Homo sapiens: one gene and its partners. The protein of the gene in region 1 purifies or fractionates together with the protein of each later gene. This does not show direct contact. Each region holds a gene or a part of one and is shown on either strand. Other genes may lie near its edges.

Evidence for each region.
Region 2: the proteins of ISOC2 (region 1) and INPP5A purify together in Homo sapiens (affinity purification with mass spectrometry; 2 studies listed by BioGRID and IntAct, with this or other methods). This does not show direct contact.
Region 3: the proteins of ISOC2 (region 1) and TGFBRAP1 purify together in Homo sapiens (co-immunoprecipitation; 3 studies listed by BioGRID and IntAct, with this or other methods). This does not show direct contact.

Annotation. Positions count from the first base shown.
Region 1 is NC_000019.10:55,458,572-55,466,018, forward strand, and holds the start of ISOC2 (isochorismatase domain-containing protein 2), read right to left. Parts: upstream 3,072-7,447; 5' UTR 2,941-3,071; intron 1-2,940. Other genes in the region: uncharacterized protein C19orf85, read right to left, coding at 4,901-5,396, 5,811-5,983.
Region 2 is NC_000010.11:132,778,787-132,783,980, forward strand, and holds the end of INPP5A (inositol polyphosphate-5-phosphatase A), read left to right. Parts: intron 1-2,062; coding exon 2,063-2,131; intron 2,132-3,074; coding exon 3,075-3,155; 3' UTR 3,156-3,162; intron 3,163-3,250; 3' UTR 3,251-4,694; downstream 4,695-5,194. UniProt on the Homo sapiens protein: Phosphatase that specifically hydrolyzes the 5-phosphate of inositol 1,4,5-trisphosphate to inositol 1,4-bisphosphate, and inositol 1,3,4,5-tetrasphosphate to inositol 1,3,4-trisphosphate. Plays a crucial role in the survival of cerebellar Purkinje cells.
Region 3 is NC_000002.12:105,326,736-105,334,231, reverse strand, and holds the start of TGFBRAP1 (transforming growth factor-beta receptor-associated protein 1), read left to right. Parts: upstream 1-4,496; 5' UTR 4,497-4,607; intron 4,608-7,496. UniProt on the Homo sapiens protein: Plays a role in the TGF-beta/activin signaling pathway. It associates with inactive heteromeric TGF-beta and activin receptor complexes, mainly through the type II receptor, and is released upon activation of signaling.

The sequences.
Region 1 (7,447 bases):
AGGCTGGAGTGTAGTGGCGCGATCTTGGCTCACTGCAAGCTCTGCCTCCCAGGTTCAAGGATTCTCCTGCCTCAGTCTCCCAAGTAGCTGGGATTACAGGCTTGTGCCACCATGCCTGGCTAATTTTTGTATTTTTAGTAGAGATGGGGTTTCACCATGTTGGCCAGGCTGGTCTTGAACTCCTGACCTCGTGATCCACCCGCCTCAGTCTCCCAAAGTGCTGGTGATTACAGGTGTGAGCCACCGCACCTGGCCTTGAGCTGCTATTTTCAAAGCTGGGTAGTTAGGACACTGTTGTTCCTTGTCTTTCTTTCTCTCTCTCGTCCTGGCCTCAAGCAACCCTCCTGCCTTGGCCTCCCTGTACTATTTTTTCTTTTTGAGACAGGGTCTCATAGTGTCACCCAGGTTGGAGTACAGTGGCGCAATCATAGCTCACTGCATCCTTAACCTCCTGGGCTCAAGTGATCATCCCACCTCAGCCTCCCAAGTAGCTAGAGCTACAGGTGTATGCCACCACACCTGGCTAATTTTTGTATTTTTATATTTTTAGAGACAGGGTCTTCCTATGTTGCCCAGGCTGGTCTCGAACTCCTGGGTTCAAGCGAACCTCCCGCCTCAGCCTTGCAACATGCTGGGATTACAAGCGTGAGCCACCGCGCCTGGCCTATTATTCTTTGAACATAATCCATCTACCATAGCAAATGTTTTCTATGTGCACCATATCTCAAGTTTAAAAACGAATAAATGGTTAAAATGGTCAATTTTATGTTGTGCAAATTTTATCTCATTAAATAAAATTGAATGGAAACTCCCTCTGAAACAAAACCACAGTGAATTAATCCCATAATTACAACTGTGATAAGTGGGATTTGGAGGGAGTCAGATACAGCTTGGCAGGGGCTGCAGTGTTCTCCTAGAGAAACTGACGACAGAAAAATGATCTTTTCACAAAACACAAAGCTATTACTCCCCTGTCTCAAACTGTCCCCTGACCCCCGTGGATTCTCTCTGTCCTCAGGACTAAGATGCAGGCGCCCCTTTCCCCCCCGCCCCGCACTGCTCTGAAGACCCTCCAGCCTCAGCCCAGCCACTCCCTCCTCTCAAACAGCCCTTGCGGTTTCCTCCCCATGGAGTGACCCTCTCACGGCCACTCATGTGCTAACTCTTCCTCCCCTGTGCAGGAGGCGGGACCTGGACACCCGGGCCCCAAGGGATGGTTCTGAGGGAACCAGGAGCTGGAGAGCTGACAGGTGGGTCACAAGGGCCCTGGAGTCTCTCTGCTGAGGGCAGTGAGGAGCCATGGAGGGGCAGATCTGGGGGCCAGCATGTCCAAAAGCCTAGGACAGGCATGTGGAGCACCCAGGAACTCCCCTCTGGCCTGGTAGGAGTGTGGGTCACAACAACTCCTAGGGACAGCCGAGCAGCTGCATTTCTCAAAATGATGGATACACAAACCCTCTGACCTCAAAAGCTGCTCCTAAGCATTTATCCTACAGACATTCATGTGAAACGACACAGGATTATTCATTACAGGACTCTTCCCCAGAGCAAAGGAGCAGAAGTTAAGTATCAATGTCCACAATGAGGGTACTGGTTACGTAAGTCATGCCATAACTATACTCTGTTATTCCTCGCAGCCAGAAAAAATTACGAGGAAGCTCTTTAAGTAACAATACGAAAACATGTTTGAGAGAAGTGAAAAAGAAGCAGAACAGTGTGTATGGAATGCTCCTTTTTGTGCCAAAGAAAAAAGGGAGAGGAAAATGTGTCTGTGTTGCCTATATCTATATCTGCTATCTCTGGCAAACAAGCAAGAAACGGGAGACTCAGGCGGGTGAACCAGGCACCGGGGAAGTCTGTAGGAGCCTTTTCACTGGGTCCTATTCTGTTTCTTCTGAATTCTGGACAATGTGCAACAAGTTGTCTAGTCAATACTATATACAATAAAGGGTTGGCATAAAGCCAAAACCCGGCAAAACTGATCTATGGCGTCAGAAGCCAGGACAGTGACTGCCCTTGGACCACAGTGATGGAAACGACGACGGCGGGAGATCCTGGGATGTGGCGCATGTTTGACTTTTTTCTTTGGATACTTGTTTACACCAGGGTGCTCCCTTTATAAATATTTATTTAAGCTGTGTATTTGCAAACCGTTCGATTTTCTGCGTTTGTGGTATTATTCCAGAAAAAGTGTTCAAAATGCAAAATACAAAGATGGCTTCAGGCCCCCGCCGTGCGGTTGAACTGGAGGCAAAAGGCCAGAGAGCAGGAGGTCGGCGCTGGGGCCCAGTGGGACAGGGGAGAGTCAGGAAGGGGCAGCTGGGACGGTGGGGAAAGTCGGGGAGAAAGGCCCCCAGTTTCTGGTCGAGCGAGGGGCATGATCTGAAGATTCATAGGGGATCCCGGGGAGGGGAACTGGTTTTTGGGAGATGAAAAATTGGGGTGAGGGTGGGTGTGTGAGAGAGAGAGATGTGAAGGGGAGGTCTGGGCTGGAGAGGGTTGGGCGTGTCCTGCGGAACGAGGAGAGATTCAGCCTGGGTGGAGGGTACCCAAGGCCAAAGGGGGCGTGGCTGGAGGTGGGCGGCAACAGGGGGCGGGGTAGGGCCGTTGATTTCCCCACCCGGTCTCGGAAACCCGGCCTTGGAGCCCGGACTTCCTGGCTGTGTGACCTTGGGCAAGTTTCTCTTTGTCTTAGCCTCAGTTTTCTCGTCGGAGAAATGGGGATTAAACCTGCCCACCCCCCAGCGCTGTTACAGAGGCGGCAGGCGCGACCCGGGGACGCTTCCAATCTCTGGCCAGCCAATTCTGGCGGGGCCAGGTGGAGTCCTCCTTCTGGTCCTGTGACCTTGGCCCGGGACGCCCAGGCAGAGCCTCAGTTTCCCCATCTGCTAGGCGGTAAGGTCGGTCTCCAAATAGCGCCAGCAGCGAGAGAGGACTTACCCGGAAGGTGCCGGGTTCGAGCCCGGAACGGCCCCTCTGCAGGTGAGGCGGGGGCACCCTCACCTCTCGGCTCTCGGACGGCCACCGCTGAGGCCTCTTGCGGGCTTCCCAGGGCTGGTTACCGTTTCGTTAGGGCTGGACACGTGGCCCACCCCCTGCACCGTCCGTTTTCCGCCCACTTGGGCCCAGCCGTCCAATCGACACTCATCATGCTCTGCCTCGCCGCTCTCTCCGGCCAATCCGCATGTGCCACTGCCTCTGCCCGCAATCGGCGCTCACCAACTCACCCCGCCCCCTGCCTCTCAACCAATCCGCATATGCAGCTGCTTTGCTCCCGCCCCAGGGGGGGCGGTGCCGGCAAGGCTGTCAGTCTCAAGAAAATGATTAGCTCGCAAAGGCGCCGTGGGGGCGGGGCAGCAGGTCGTTCTGCCAATGGAGAGCCGTAGAGGGCGTGAGTGGCGGCCGACGGGGCGGAGTCGCGCGGTGGTCTCCGAAGGCTCAGACTCTGGCTGGAGAGAGGGCGTCTCGGCCGGCCCCATTGCACAGAGCAGACCGCCGAGGCCGGGAGAGAGAGAGAGGGGTCTTACCTAGAGTAGAGGCATGTCTGCGGTTCGAAACCTGGCCCTCTCTCAAGAAACGGAGGCTTACAAAGATACCCAAGCACTTTCCAGGAAGGGGCTGGCTGAGGGAGCGATCAAGTGAGGAATTTGACGCCCCCCTGTCCTTTGCGCTCTGTGCTGCCTCAGTTTCCCCATCTGTACAGCACCTGCCTCCTCGGGTGGTGTTTAGAATAATTTAGACTCTGTGCTTGGAAATGGAGGTTGAGAGAAAGAGAGAATTTCCTATCTGTCTTGGAATAAATCCAAACTCCTCCCAATTCATGGTCGGCCTTCCTGGTCCGTGCAGACCTCGCCTCTCACCACTCCCCCTGCTCACTCCGCTCCAGCCACAGGGGTCTCCTCTTGCTCTTCCCTCAATGTCCCACCGCAGGGCCTTTGCACGTGTGCTGCCTCAGCCTGGAATCCTAGGACTCCCCATGGCCCAACCTTCCAGGCTTTCAAAGCCTTTCCTGACCACCTGGTGTCAGGTAGCCCTTCCATCAGGTCGCTGTTTTTAATTTTTTTGAAACATCAAAAAAAAGAAAAAAATTGCTCTATCACCCAGGCTGGAGTACCATGGTACGATCACAGCTTGCTGCAGCCTCAACCTCCCGGGCTCAAGCGATCCTCCCACCTCAGCCTCCTGAGTAGCTGGGACCACAGGTATGCGCCACCACACCTGACTAATTTTTTAATTTTTTTGTAAAGATGGAGGTCTCACTCTGTTGCCCAGGCTGGTTTTGAACTCCTGGGCTCAAGTGATCCGCCTGCCTTGGCCTCCCAGAGTGCTGCGATTACAGGTGTGAGCCGCCGCACCCGGCCTTGTGTTTTATTTTCTTTTCAGCACTAACTCCAATCTGAATTGGAAATGAATCTTGCTTTTTGAAAAATGCATGGATATACTCTTTTATTGTCTGTTCCCCGCCAAAACACACACATGCACACAGAACAGGGAGCTCCCTGAGGCAGGGGTCCCGTCTGCCTCGTTCACAGCTGAATCCTCAAGTCCTAGACCTGGGCCTGGCCCATAGTAGGCGCTCGATACATCTTTGGGAATAAATGACAGGAGAGCAGACATTAGGCAGAGGTGAGCCTGGGTGAGAGTGAGGGGTGGATGCCCAGATGGGGCTAGGCAGAAGGAAGGGGGAAGGCAGGAAAGCAAGAAGAGGTGGAGGTGGGGCCCCTGGGCCCAGGAGGAGACCCCTGAGGCAGTGGTCTGAAGTGGGGGTCTGGGTTGGTTTATTTTCCCAGGGGCTGCCAGGAAGGGAGTGGACAGGTTGGGGGCTCCTGGAGAGGGCTGTAGAGCCGTCGTGGAGGGGCCTCTGGCTTGTCCTGGGTTCTGGGCTGGGTTGTGATTGGCCTCATGGGGAGCTGGTCCCCCAACCCTCGGGGATCCCCTGAGAATCCCAGGCACGAGGCACCTCCCAGCAGTCCACCCAACCCCAGTCGGGAGCCACGAGATCAGCCTCTTCCCCCAGGGCATGCTGGGGAAGGGGCAGGGGGCCGCAGAAATGTGGGACCTGCCTCAGGTCCAGCTGGCCCAGGTCGCGATGGGACAGACCCGGCGCTGGCAGGGGAGCATCAGAACCAGAGGAGGGGTCCCATGGCATTGAGGCACACTCTGGGGTGAGCGCAATGTTGTCAAAGAGGTCGAGGGTAGAGGTGTCCAGGGCAGCGAGACTCAGGCTGGCGCTGGCATGGGGAGCCTCAGTGGGGGCCACAGCACAGGCCACTCCCAGGAAGGGGGATGGAGGCGGTGGGGGTGGCTTTTGGAGCGAGGGTCTCTGGGGAGGTGCCTCCTGGGACAGGATGGAGAGGGCCAGGCGCTGGGTGGCAGCCTCAATCTTGGTGAACTGCCTGTAAAGACAGATGTGAGCAGGCTGGTCTCTAACGCCTGAACTCAAGCGATCCTCCTGCCTCGGCCTTTCAAGGTGCTGGGATTGCAGGCTTGAGCCACCACCCCCGGCCAGCATATTTGCAAGGGTCACCTATGTGGTCGCATCACACCGTGCTAGTTATTTATTTTGGTGATTCCTGACCGTCCGCCACCCCCATGAAAACACAACCTCCACGACAGCAAGGAACTTTATCTGCTTTGCTAACTGGCCTGGCACACAGTAGGCACTCAATAAATGCACGTTGACTGTTGCTGGCATCCAGCCCTGGGGGCTGCTCCTCTCTGTCTGTACCTGGTCTCCCCCAGCCAAGGGTGCTGGTTGCTCCTTCCCCTCTTCCCCGTCCCGTGCCCACCTTCCCCACCAGCCCCCTCACCTGCAGATCTGGTTGTGCAGAAACCTTCTGTGGTTGGGCCGCCTCTTGGGGGGCCGGGTGCGCCGGGGCTGCAGGGCCCGCAGCATGTGGGCGGCCGCCCCGCTCACAAAGGCACACAGCTCCCGGGGGCCGGGCTCGGAGACCCCAGGGCCTTCGGGGACCCCGGGGTGCATGGCCAGGGTGGTCTGGAGTAACTCCCCACAATATTGCTGACCAAAGCACCCCCCAAATCTGTGAGCAGGGAGGGGCAGGGGACTCTGGAGGCCCAGGCACCCCGGGCTGGGGAGGAGGCAGGGCTGGGAATTGGGCCAAGGCCTCCCCACTGTGCCCTAACCCTGTCCCCACCTCCCAGGAGCCCGACCTGAAGTCTGAGGGAGCGGCAGGTGGGGGCTAATATAGGAAGGCAGGGAACAGGGAGGGGAGGGGGCTTTCTGGGGCCCTCTAAGTGCCCAATTAGCGCATAGTTGGACCTGGGATATGGACCTGGCGTGCGTCGGCGGGGGGCAGAGAATGGTGCCTGGAGATGGCCAATTAAGGGAACAAAGGCCTCGTTCGGGAGGCGAGGCCGCCAGTAAGTCAAATGCAGCGATTGAGCGTGGAGGACCCTTAATTGGAGCCGTGGGGAGGGGGCTGGGAGGGAGGGGAGCTGGGCTGCATCTGCCCACCCACCCTCAGACACACCTGTGCCTCCCTCCCTCTGCTCAGCCCAGCACCTTAGGAGGGGAAACCGAGGCTCCCAAAGGGGCTGGTGCGGGCCGAGGTCTCCAGCCAGCAGGAGGGGTTGGCTCCTGGAGGGTCACCCCCGAAATCCTGGGGCTCATAGAATCCTGAGCAGCAGAGTGAGGGAGGAGAGGGGGAAGGGTGTGGCAGGACGGGAGGGGACGGGAGAACAGGGCGCAGTCTCCCCCAGGGTGTTTTATTGAGGCACTGGGACCCCTGGTGTCTGTGGGAGGCAGAGGTTGGGCCGGGTCCCCTTGTTTCTGGAAGGGTGTTGGCCGGAGCGGGGACCCTGGGTCTCAGGTTGGGTAGGGGAGCACCGGGTGTGACAGCCTCAGTCTCTGCTTGGACCCCCACCCTCGGGGGTCTGCTCTGGGAAGCCAGGATGTTTCCCGAAATTGATGTAACAAATGACCACGGCTCAGTACCTAGAACCGCACGCGCTGATTCTCCTGCCTGAAGCAGGGATTTAAACCTGACATCATGAGTTTGCTTCCCAGGCCCGCTCACTGGCCAGCAGCACTATGGGCAAGGTCAGCAGTTGAGGTCCTACCAGGCCTAGGGTGGGGGCCAGCAGGCAGGTGGGGGCATATTGGGAGCTGGGGCTGAGTGCAGCCAGTGATGTTGCCAGAGGTCCAGTTTCCTGTCAGCAGGACATGGTGAGACCAGCTGCAGTAGGACAGACAGACACCCAGTGCCCTCACCAGCCATGGCACGTACACGTTGACTGCTACCCCTGCCATGCTCAACACTACCACTGTGCTGAACCACTGCACAGGTGGGGCTGCTGGGCCTGGTGTGGCTGGTGTCTGTGTTGGGGACACCATTGGCCTCCCATGTTTCTCTCGGGTGTCTCCAAGGGTCTCCAGCCTCCTAGACAGCCTCTTGTACTCTGCCCCTTGGTCCCTCTGCCTGCCAGC
Region 2 (5,194 bases), on another chromosome or scaffold:
GAGGCTCCAGTTGTCCCTCACTGCCCATCTGTGTCTGTGCCAGACGGCACCAGACCCCAGGCACAGCAAACACCTGGGTACAGGTGTGCCCTCAGCAGGGCGGGGACCTCTGCAGCCCTGGTCCCTGAGATGCACCCTGCTGGCCTCTGCCATGTGGCTCTGTCTGCCGGGCCGGGTTCCTTACTGTTCCTTCCTACATCCTGGAGCACCCTGGGTGCAGCCTGCCCTCCGTCCCTGGCTGTGCTGTGAGGAGCCTGCCTGGTGGGGGCCTGGGCTGGAGGCGGGGCCCCTTGGCCAGAAGTCCCTGGGGTCTGCAGCCAGCCTGGCTCCTCCGCAGCCCCACCTCTGGCCTGTGGGCAGGGCCTGTGCCCATCATTGAGGAAAGTGTGCTGGCCACAAGCCCAAAAGCCCAGGAGTGGGCTCGGCCTGGAGCCTGGCTGTGGACCTGCCACTGCCCCTCTGGCTGGGCTCACTGGTAGGCACGCCAGTCCCTCGGTGCCACATGGTGGGTGCTCCCATCTGCCAGTGCTGAGAGCGGGTCAGGCATGTGGAGCCCAGGGCTGCCACCAGCGGGGCAGGAGCCTCCCGGGGACTCGGGCACAGATGCCATCCCCTGGGAAAACGTCGGAGGTCACGCGAGTGCAGATTGGTGAGCAGCGCCCAAGGGCAGAAGGCTGGCAGGGCTGTGGCCTCCCCACATTGTGCTGCCGCTGCCAGGGCTCCACCAGCTCAGAGCAGGGCAGCGTTGCAGCCCGTTTTCCATTCACTCACAGCCTCTCGGGTTCTCTGGATCCGGGACTTGACACTTTATGCTCAGGGTGGGGGACAGAGCCTCACAACACACACCTGGCGGCCTTTGACAGCCCCTGCCTTCTGGGGCTGGAGTTTGGACAGGCTCTCCCCATGGGGCCACCCAGTGGGCAGCGGGTGTGCAGGACAAGCAGACGGGCGCCGGGCGCGCTCCGCAGCCTCATCCATCATGACACGCGCCGTCACCTCGTCACCAAGCTCCGTTCTGCCTCCGGAGCCCTAAAACACCAAAAGGGGCTCGGGACGCGGGCGGTGCTGCTTGGGGAGCCTCGGTGACAAGTGTTCAGTGAGGTGTGCCGCACGCTGCCTGTGCCCGCCGTAATTTGTTTATCTGTCCAAAGATTATGCAGTTGAAAATCCACAATTTTATGCTGCCTTTGTAAATTACCACGCTGCGTTTGATGAATGTTTCTCCACTTCTGCGGAGGCGCCGCTTCACCCGCGAGAGGCGGGAAGGTGCTCATGCATGCGGTGCCGAAGCTTGTTTTCTCATTCTTTCTGGCAGGCGCCCATGCTGGAAAGTAAATCTGACCTTGAGCTTCCCACTGCATTAAAGATAACTCAGTTTTACCTGGATAGTCTCAGATGCTCCAGCTGTGGATATAAAATTCCAGCCCAACCAGAGCCGAGTGCTGACCAGCAGCAAACCCCTTCCGGAGGCGCCCGGAATACAGGCACCTGCTGGGAAGTGCGCACACAGCCGTGAATTACTGTGCACAGATTGCTTTGTGTAGTGGTGTGGAATTCGGTGTCTGTTCTCGTTTGAACACTGAGTTCTAGGTTAATAGAACAGTCAAAAACAAATCAAAGTGGGAAGATTGGAACTAGATGGGCTGCCGCACTCAGAGGAGCACACCTGCACAGAAAGCTGGGGCGCACACACTCCTGTGAACAGGGTCCCCTGCAACTCCCCTGAGAGCCCAGGAGCATGTCCGGGAGAGGGGAGCTTGGGAGCCGGGCCAGCACCCGCGGCTCCCCACGCGACCCCTCCTAGAGGCAGATACCTGTTGTCCAAAAGGGCCAGGGTCAAGGTGCTGAGGCGCTGCCACATCACCAGAGCCTTTGGTCCATGAGCTGGCCTCTCTCTCAGGGGCCAGGCAGGGCGGGTGGCAGAGGCTGGGGAGGTACTGGCAGGGGCCGACATCCCCATCTCTCTGCCCCCACAAAACCCTGATGTTCCTGCCAGTCAGCTCCCAACTGGACCCAGGGTGCCCCACCTCCCCACACTCACCTGTCTGTTTCCCCTTTCCAGTCGGAGAGCGAGGAGAAGGTTGTCACCTATGACCACATTGGGCCCAACGTCTGCATGGGAGACCACAAGGTGACATAGACTGAGGTCCAGGGGCCAGGCTGGGGGACCAAGGGGAAGCTAGGGGGCCGGGGGGCTGGGGCCAGTGGGTGGGCGGGTGCTGGGGCTGGCAGGCAGGTGGGCGGGGGTTGGCCAGTCTCTCCTCTCCTGTTCTCCTGTCTTCTTAGTCTGACTACAGAGTAGGCCAAGTTGGTCTGTTTTTATTTAATTTTAATAAAATATCATAAGCTAGGTGGGTAAGTAGGAAGAAGGCAGAAATGACGTTACAATAGAATAAAATACATAATTTAATATTTGTAAAAAAATGTCCACAGCTGATTGTTTCTGAAGGCTGTTTTGCAAATATGCAGCTTCAGTGTTTTAATGGCCTTCTTGGGGCAGGCTCACTGTCAGCCGAGGAGCCGGGGTGAGGGCGCTCCCCACCGTGTGCCAAGGGGCAGCACTGGCACAGATCGTTTATTCAGGCAACTGCACCTCGAGAGTGTGCACAGGAGACAGATCAAATCTCATTTTCAGCCAATAAATGAGTTAGCTTCTTCCACGTTGGAGGCCCAGAGCTGTGAGCCCCAAACACACCCGGATAAGACGCTGGACCTGCCAGGTGCGGCAGAGCCGAGGACGGGAGAGCCTTCCTTCCCCGCTTCATTTGGGGCCTATTTAGCCATTCTTTTACATCAGTTTTTCCATTAATTTTTTTACCTGGAAATAACACCTTCCTTGCAAAACCTCTCATGGCCGGCCTGGCTCCAGTTCCACATTCACGGGGCCCCCAACCCCTGCGCTGCCGTGGCTGTGCACAAGGGCCGAGCTGCCTCTGCTGGCCATCAGCTCCTCCCAGCCCGGTTCATGGCTGCCCTGGTGAGACGCAGGGTCTGGGGGTGCAACGGGAGGCGGCGGCATGTGCTGTGCTGTCCCGCGTGCGCCGTGCTGACACCGTCCTCTCTTCCTGCTGCAGCCCGTGTTCCTGGCCTTCCGAATCATGCCCGGGGCAGGTAAACCTCATGCCCATGTGCACAAGTGTTGTGTCGTGCAGTGACGTGGTGGTAAATATGACTCCTCCCTCCAGTTCAGCTTTTACGCAGCTTTTCCTGGTGCGTTTGTTCCTTTAACAAATTACGAATTCCGTGACAGGGAAGAGATGCCAGCGCCACGAGAGGACACTTCGTGAGCCTCCCTGTAGCCGTGGACCGAATACGCACTCTTGAAAGCTGCATCGAGAACCCGCCCAAGCGCCACCTGCTAGACGGCCAGCCCCACACTTCGCTTCAGCCTCCGGACCATTCCGGAGCAGCCTCACATACCTCACTGTCTCGTCTGTCTATGTGACATTAAGTAGAAATATTGGTTTTTTTTTTTTTTTTTTAAATAAGTCACAGTCCTGTTGTCAAAACTCTAATAGACAGCAAAGAGGGTCTGTACCGTAGACTTCACAGTTTTCAGTTTTTAATGATTGCCAGTGGAGGGGCTTCTTCAGCACAGAGACCCCCCACTGTGTCCAGGGACCCCCTCTGCCAGGTGGAGGTGTGTCCAGGGGCTGGGGAAGCCGAGACGGGCACTCCCTCTGCCGGCCGGCAGCGTGGCCCTGAGCATGGCAAGGGGGTCTGTCTCTGCCGATGCTCCTTCCGCGGCACTGACTCTGCGCCGTGTCACATGGTTTTTGAATCACACTGCAGCTGCTTTCCATTTTTATATATATATAAATATATATAAATATATACTTTTTAAAAATAATTTATAAATCTTACCAAAACTTATGCTAAATATACTTTCCAGTATGAACGCACAGGAGAGTCCCATCAGCAGGCGGCATTGGAGTCTAGGAGCTCAGCTGTGTGTCCATCAACACACAAATTCGTAAAAAACACACATGGCCTCGCCATCGTGGGTAAAATCGGCCCCACAGCACGTCTGCACCAGCGGGCCGTTACTCCCATGCCGTTCTTCTGTGTAATATTAAGAACTGAATGTGAAGTTTATAGCTAGCCTGGGTGTACCTTTTAAGAATTTTGTAAACCGTTTGTCTGTCTTTTGTTACTGTTTTATGGTGCCAAGTATCCTACGTTACAACAATAATATCATGGGAGAAATAGAAATAGCCTAGTTTGCTTCCAATAGAAACTGCTTTTAACATGGGCTGTATATAAAAATATTAAAGAGAAACAAAACTGTACATTTCCTCATTGCTCCGCTACAGACAACCCATGTCATAACCTTGTTGCAAATATTTTTCTCCTATAGCAGTAAGTACAGCATTAGAAGGTGATTAGAGAGTCTGTTGATGAAACACAAATGTATGTTTTATTGATTTTACTTTAGAACACTACAGAGTTCCTGGACCGGGTGAAGGCATTAGCTGGGTGTTTGTGTGGGATAAATACTACCACTGCAAGTGACTGCTGTCCGCTGCGGAATCTGTTCTTGGTGGAAGCACAGGTCCGTGTCGCTGCTGTGGTTGCCGCTGTCCGCGGTTCAACACGGAGTCCGCCCCGCGGGTTTCAGCTGTTGGTCGTTCTGAGGGGCCTTTGGAAGTGACCGGTCTGGTTCCTAAGCAATAAAATTGACCGTGGTGAAAATAGTCCCGTGTTGCTTTTTCTTCCTTTCCCTTCTCCTGCCACCTTTGAAATGCTAACTCAGGGGAGCGGCCTCCTGTATAGCCTGTTATTTGAGATCAAGCTCATTAGAAATCCTGGAATTTCACTGTATCACACGCTGTCACAAAACACTAAGCCGTTCATTGAGAGGAGAAACACAGCCTTTTGGACTTTCTACTGTAATAAAGGATTTATCCCTCAACATTTTAAAACGGGATTATATCAACGCTTTGCCTTCCTCAAAACTTTAAGAAGCCCCTCTGCTCTGAGCTGAGAGGGGCTCCCCACAGAAAAGCGTTGCTTCTGCCCTTCGAGTTGCTTCCTTGTAAAGAAGGCTGCTAAGAGCCTAAAACAAAACGCGCCGAGTTTAAGCCCTTTCTATTTCCCTTTAACGCTTCCGCAAATGCCAAGAGAAATCGTACCACCGCAGTGATATCATTATTTACATTTAATTTTTAAAAATTAAAACTCAACAGCCACGCCC
Region 3 (7,496 bases), on another chromosome or scaffold:
CTGTGGGGAACCAACAAACACTGCAATGCCTGGCATTGTCACCTCACTAGATTGTGAGTTCCTCTGGGACAGGGTCCGTACATTTTCTTAGAATCCCTCACTTAGCCATTAGCCTGCACAGTGCTTGTACTTAGTAAGTGCTCAGTAAATGTTTGTGGAATGAATGCATGATGAACAAAATATATACTGAGGACTCTTGGTGTTGATTCTTGTTGATAATGTAATAGTTAAGATATGTTATAAATATGTTATAAATATTGTATCAAAATATTGTATCAAAAATATACTTGAACAGGCTGGGCGTGGTGGCTCACACTTGTAATCCCAGCCCTTTAGGAGGCTGAGGTGGGTGGATCACTTGAGGTCAGGAGTTCGAGACCAGACTGGCCAACATGGTAAAACCCCATCTCCACTAAAAAAAAACAAAAGTTAACTGGGCATGGTTGTGGGTGACTGTAATCCCAGCTACTCAGGAGGCTGAGGCAGGAGAATCGCTTGAACCCGGGAGGTAGAGGTTGCAGTGAACCAAGATCGCACCACTGCACTCTAGGGGACAGAGCAAGACGCCTCAAAAAAAAAAATGTATATATATAGTATATACATACACATGAGCATAAAGGAGCTTCAATGTGAAGGTAATAATTTAAGCAACATTTCACATTTTGGACCTGTGTTGTTAGCTATTTAGAACAGTTAAACTACTAGCTTGCTTTTAAATCCATTGTCTTAGTCATTTCAAGTTGTTATAACAAAATACCATACACTGAGTAGTTTATAAACAACAGAATGCATTTCTCTCAATTCTGGAGGCTGGGAAGTCCAAGATCAAGGTGCTGGCAGATTGTGTGTAGTGAAGATCCATTCATCAGAGATGGCACCTTCTCGTTGTGTCCTCACATGGTGGATGGGGCAACAGGCTCTCTTAGGCTTCTTTTATAAGGGCAATAATTCATGAAGTTTCCACACTTATGATAGAATTACCTCCTAGAGGCCCCACTTCCAAATACCATCACCTTGAGGGTTAGGTTTCAACATACAAATTTTGGAGGTACACATTCAGATGATGACAGCACTCATAGGTTACCTTTCATCTTTGGGTTCTCAGTGCCTGCTACAACAGCACAAGAACAGTAAGTGTGTGCTGAATGAATACAGATGAATGAACCTTTCCCCATCCTCAGATACTTCCCAACTGAGCTCCACTATCACCAAACTTCTAGAGCACATTATTTTTTGCCTTATGATCTCGTTAGGTGGGTTTTTCTTGCACATACCACACTAATCCAGTGGTCCTCAAAATTGTGTGCCCATTAGAATCCTCTGGAGGGGTTGTAAAAATAGTTTGCTGGGTCCTAACCCCAGAGTTTCTGATTTAGGAGGTTTGGGATGGGGACACCAAAATTTGCATTTCTAACAAGTCCAGAGGTGATGTTGATACTGCTGGCTACCAACTCTACCTTATAAACCATTGCCCATTAAACTCTTGAGGGTAGAGACTGTCTTCCTCATTTCAGTATCTGCTGAAGCCTCTGGCATAGTACCTGGCACATAGGAGCTGCTAAAGAAGTAGTTGATTGAACAATAGTTCAAAAAAGTTTATTTTACTGAAGCTAGATTACAAGTATATGAATGTGTGTGTATATGTGATTAAATGAGCTATTACATGTAAAAGCTCTTAAAACATGGCACATAGTAAGCTGTTGCTTTAAAAAAAATAAAAAATGTAACCTTTCTTTGCTTATATTCTAAAATGACACCAACCATCCTACATGTGTGCTCTTAAATAGCTTATATATTAGAATAATGGAATCTTAGTACTAAAGGCTGGATGTGGTTGCTCATGCCTGTAATCCCAGCACCTTGGGAAGCCGAGGTGGGTGGATCACTTGAGGTCAGGAGTTCAAGACCAACCTGTTCAATATGGTAAAACCCTGTCTCTACTAAAAATACAAAAATTAGCCCTGCGTGGTGGTGCATGCCTGTAGTCGCAGATACTTAGGAGGCTGAGGCAGGAGAATTGCTTGAACCTGGGAGGTAGAGGTTGCAGTGAGCTGAGAAGATTGTACCACTGCACTCCAGCCTGGGCAAAAGAGACTGTCTAAAAAAAAAAAAAAAAAGTAATCTAGTTAATATTTCAATATTGAGCATCAAGAATTTTTAAAAATTGGTTGAGTGTTTTCTACATGCAGAAAGATACAGCAGAGAGCATAGACACAATCCTTGCCCTCCCAAGCGTATACCCAGCGAGAAAGTGAGAAGCACAGAGTATGTGTAAGCATAAAAATACTAAGTTTTGAGAGTAGACAGCAACTATGAAAATATTCAGTTATATCGATGCAACTCAGTCTTCATTAATTGTTCTCATCGGAGCACATCTTTTTCACATTCTGTAAAGTAACGCTCGGTATGGGCCCAAGGAATATTTAATAAATATTTAAAAATGAAGTTAATAATTGTTTTGAAAGCCATATGGTTGATATTTCTTCTTAAATGTAACCAATAGAAACAACATAAGGAATTTGGCCTGTGCATATATTTGCACATTTATGGTACAGGCATTTACATGGAGGTGCCTGTCATTTGTGACACAGACTTCTCATCAAGTTTCAGAAGGAACAGATGTTTCTAGATGGAATAATATGGAGCTTGCCATTGTAAGAATCCTGTAATAAATCCTTTCATAAAATAAATATATCTGAATTATCTCTTGTTATACATTTTCACTCCTGGATCATCTAAAGTAGAACACAAAGATTGTTCATAAACTATTCATTCAAAACAACTTTATATAAAAAGAATTACTGTTGCTGAATTCTGGATTCTTATTGTTGCTCTTTCTTACTAGCATGGGGTTTGGGACAAGTCACCTTTTTAAATTTTTTTATTTATATTTTCCTAAGTGAATTAACACAGGAAGTCATTCACCTTTCTTTGCCTCAAAGAATTAAATTTATTCTTTGACGCTATTAAGTAAATTAATAGCGTCTACTTCATTGCTCAGTCACTAGCAGTTTCTGAAGTCACTGTCTGGCAGTCAGTAGATATCACCTCTGTAACTAGTCTTGTGCAGCTCTCTGTGATGTGATCTGGTAGAGGACTAAGATACAAAAGCACAAGGGTGAATTCTAGGACCACCTGAGCCAGTGATTAGTTGATGACAAGTCACATAGTCTCTGTGAGCCTGGGTAAAATGAAGAGACTGGATTTGCTCTTGTACCTTCCCAATCCCTGGCTCCACTAGCTGTTGGCCACCTTAGACTTGAAGGTCCATTCACTGCTGCTTGCCCTTGAAGCTCAATTGCTGGTCAGAGCTTTACACTCCTGGGAAGCCAGTCCCCTACCTGGAGGCTGAGCCGGTGACACTGGTTCCACTGGGTCACAGCTGAAGCACCACTGGGGATGGGGCATTTATGTGGCCATGAGTCACACTAGGGTAGGGGTAGAGGGCAAGTCACAGGAAGATTGTTGGGTTTTTTTTTTTTTTTTTTTTTTTTGGCCAGTTTCTTTTCTTTCTTTTTTTATCCCTTTGAAACAGAAGACCATGGCGTACAATCTGGTATCTGCCTTCAGGGTTGGGATAATATCTTTGTTTTACAATACTCAGAGTGGCTGGAAGAAAGCTGAGGCCACAGGTCACTAGCAGGTTCTAAAGTCTGAAAATCCCTGGGAAAATTTGACTTTTTATATGCTAATAATTGAGTACTGACAACTCTGGAGGGAGCTTTCCAATTCTTCCGTCATGAAAGTGGACTTTGTATACTAAAGAGGGGTTCATGGATTCATGGTAACCTACAATTCTTCCTTGCGGCCTGAACCAAAGGAATAGCAGCTACAGTTGGGTTTTCCTAAAAGGAGTAAGATAGTCCCAGGCCTCCCTTCTCAAATAAGTGTATCAAGCAGGTGGACTCTGCCAGTCGGGGGTCCCGGTCAATCCCTAGGGCCCTGGGGCGCCATGGGCCTCGTGGGAGGGCTGCGCATCCCAACCATGCCTTCGTCTCCTGGTGGGGCACCGGCGGTACGTCCGATCCTCCAGCCCGCGTGGTCAGGCGGCCGCGGGCCCAAGCATTTCCCAGGGCCCAAGCATTTCATTCATTTATTCATTCACGCAGCAGGTATTTCCCGGGCGCCCTCCTCCTGTGTAGGTGACAGAAACTGGGTGGCGAGCGAGCCAGGCAAAGCCCGGCTTCCCTGAAGCTCCCCGCAGCGGCGGGGGCGGAGAAGAGACCTCAGCCCCGCGGGCTCGCACAGCTGGCGCGGACCACGCTCTCGCCCGGGGCCGGCGGCCTCAGCGCCCCCCGAATGAACACCTTCCGCCCGCTGGCCGCCCCGCGAGGCGGGCCGTGTCGTGGCCCCGGTGCACGGAGGGGGACGCCGAGGCCCGGAGCAGGGCCCGTCTCGGCCTGTGCTCGGAGCCAGGCGGCAGGGCCCGCGGGCCGGCGGGCGGCGCGGAGACGGCTGCGCTCCCGCCCTCCGCCAGCGCCTGGCGGCCGCCCCACGTGACGGGAAGCGGCGGCTGCGGGGTCGGGCCAGCCCAGGAGCCGCGGGCCGGAGCGGGGCGGCGGGGCCCCAGGCCGCGGGGCGGCGCGGGACGGCGGGCGCCGGCGCCGGTGAGTGAGGAGGGCGGCGGGGCGCGGGGTGCGGGGCTCAGGGCGCGGGGCGCGTGGGGCAGGAGGGCGGGGAGCAGGAGTGGGGGGTAGGCGGCGGGGCGGGGTGGAGGGCGAGCCCGTGCGTGTGCGCTGGGGCAGGTGTAGTGGGGGCTGGAACGCGGGGTGGGGGGAGCAAGTGGCTATACACTTGGGGGCAGGTGTGCGGGTGTGCGACTTGGTAGCTGTCCCTTGTGGGGGCCGGCTAGCCTGCTGGGGTGAGCAAATAAGTGTTCACGTGTGTGTGGGATGAAGTGTGCACGGGTGTGGGGTCAAGTGTGTATGTTGTGTGTGAGGAGTGCGTGTGTGTTTAGGGCAAGGGAAGACCTGAGAGACCTCGTCCTTGATTTGGGTTTTCCGGGGAGAAGGGCCAGGAAGGACTTGCACCTCCATCCCTGGTATGGAATGGTTTTGGCGCTGTGATTGAGGTTTCTGGGAGCTCTTTGGATTTGAGAGCTCAAATTCGGGTCACACTCAGGCCTGAATTGTCCTGATCTGGAGAGTAGGCAGGGGTGTGTTGGGGAGTAGGGAAAAGTGCTGTGCTGGGCTTCCTGGCCCCTGTTTTTAGCACCAGGTCAAGGGCTGGAAGCTGTCATCCCTGTGGAATTGTTTTCTTTCCATTGCCTTCTGGAGGTGCAGGTGCAAGTTAGTCCGCCTGCCTCCCTGTGTTAAGTGTTGATATCCTTAAACACGGAAGCTGTCCGGTTGTCTGCACCTGCCGTGGCTTCTACCCAAGGACTGTTGAGTGACCCTCAGGAAGCCTCCTACCTGGCTGCTAAAAATGGGGGCTCACAGATCACACAGCAGGCCTTACTGCACGTGGACTGCACGCGCAGCTGTGGTCAAAACATGTCTGAGCAGAGTTTAATCACTGATGAAGTGCTCATGGGCAAGCACCTTGTCTATCAGGAAGGAAGGCAGCTGCGGGTGTGATTGTGGTGGCAAGTTAAGGCACTGAGAAGGTGTGCAGGGAAGATCCTACTGCGTTGTGTGTGTTGGCTTGGTTGGAGTCAGGATGAACGAATGTAGAGGGACTGTGTGGTGGCTGCTACTCTCTCATGGTGGACATGCTTCTCTCTGTTGGTCAGCCGGAAGCTGGCAGACAACTGAGAGCTCGCAGTTCCATGGTCAGTCAGAAGGAACATTTGGTCAGCTGCTTCCTTTTCTTTTTCCTTCCATTTCTGCCAGCCGAGCAGCCTCAACAGTCATTGCAGCTGCTTCTGTGATGTGTAGCAAAACGCTGCCTGGAGTACTAGAAAGTCTACTGGCTGGAATCTGCTGGAACCTGTCCATAACTAGCCTGCCCCAGGTCATCTATGAAATGGGAGTGATGCTCTGTGGTGGTAATGAATGTGGAGTGTGGGTTCAAATCCTGCCTCTGCCATTTCCTGTGACCTTTGGGCAATTTGCTGGACATTCTGAGTCTCAAATTCCTCCATCAAAATAGGGATAATATTAGAAAAGGCACATGAATTCTAATAAGAAATTGTGCCTGGAAAGGATCCGGCACAGGGTCTGGCATTTAGTAGGTGCTCAATAAATTATTGCTGACAAATATAAATGAGGATGTAGAGCCAGGTCTCCCTCAGCTCTGAAAATATGTAGTTTTATGTTTTGAGTAATTGTTAACCTAACAAATGATTTACTCTGGAGTTAGACTTGTGGGTTCTGAATTCCAATTTGCTATGTGCATCAAGGTTTGCATTACACAATTGAATTGGGTGAGAGGTGAGGTGCCACTGTTAGCCTTCATTCACTCTGCCTTTTCTTCTACACTCATGATTGTGCATGGCAGTCCTCTTGTCATAGCATTGGAGGCAGAGCGTTTTCACCACTGCAGGAATCCCAGGACCAATCTAACCTCAGCTTAAACCCTCCAGAGACAGGGATTTGTAAAGGGCCCATTCTTCATTTAGGCAGCTCCAGTTGAGGAGTTTTAAAAGCATAGAGCTCACTATTTTAAAAATGCTATATTTTCTTTTTGTTGTTGTCTTCTGGGTGGTTTTTTTGCTGTTGTTTTTGAGACAGGGTCTTGCTCTGTCACCCAGGCTGGAGTGCAGTGGTGTGACCATGGCTCACTGCAGTCTTGATCTCCCAGACTCAAGGGATCCTCCCACCTCAGCCTCTCAAGTAGCTGGGACCACAGGCTCGCACTACCACACCCAGATAATTTAAAAAATTTTTTTTGTAGAGATAGGGGTCTCCCTGTGTTGCCCAGGCTGTTCTCAAACTCCTGGCCTCAAGCAATCCTCCTGTCTTGGCCTCCCAAAGTGCTGGGATTACAGACCTGAGCCGCTGCGCCCAGCCAAAAAACTTGCTGTATTTTCTGGGTCTGATATGCAGCTAACATTTCTGTTAGGAAAAAAAAAATGAAGTTATTTGGCTTATTCCTTCATGCTAATATTACAAATTTGTGATCTTTTAAGAAAACTTGAAGAAATTTTACTTAATGGGTTAAGTGTCTTCATCTTGGTCTGAATCCAGCCCTCATTAGAAATACATTAAAGTAGTCATTTGTGGCAGCCAGGTGTTTGGATACTGCCGAATAATTTGGCTCAGACTTTACAACTCATCTCTGTAGCAAACCTGACTCGTTTTTCTTTATTTAAAAAAATAAATACCTACTAAATGAATGTAGAGTAACAACTTAATTTGGTGCTACCCCAAATGACTTTAAGTGCCTCATGAAAAGTGAATTATGAAATCTTGCAGATGATTTGAAATCAAGATCTTTTCTTGATAGTCAAGTAACTGCTGTTGAAAAAGTTAAAGATTTAAGGAAAAAATCACATATTTAAAGATGACAACTGACTGGATATTATGGACTATCAAGTCCTGTAGGTACTCAATAAT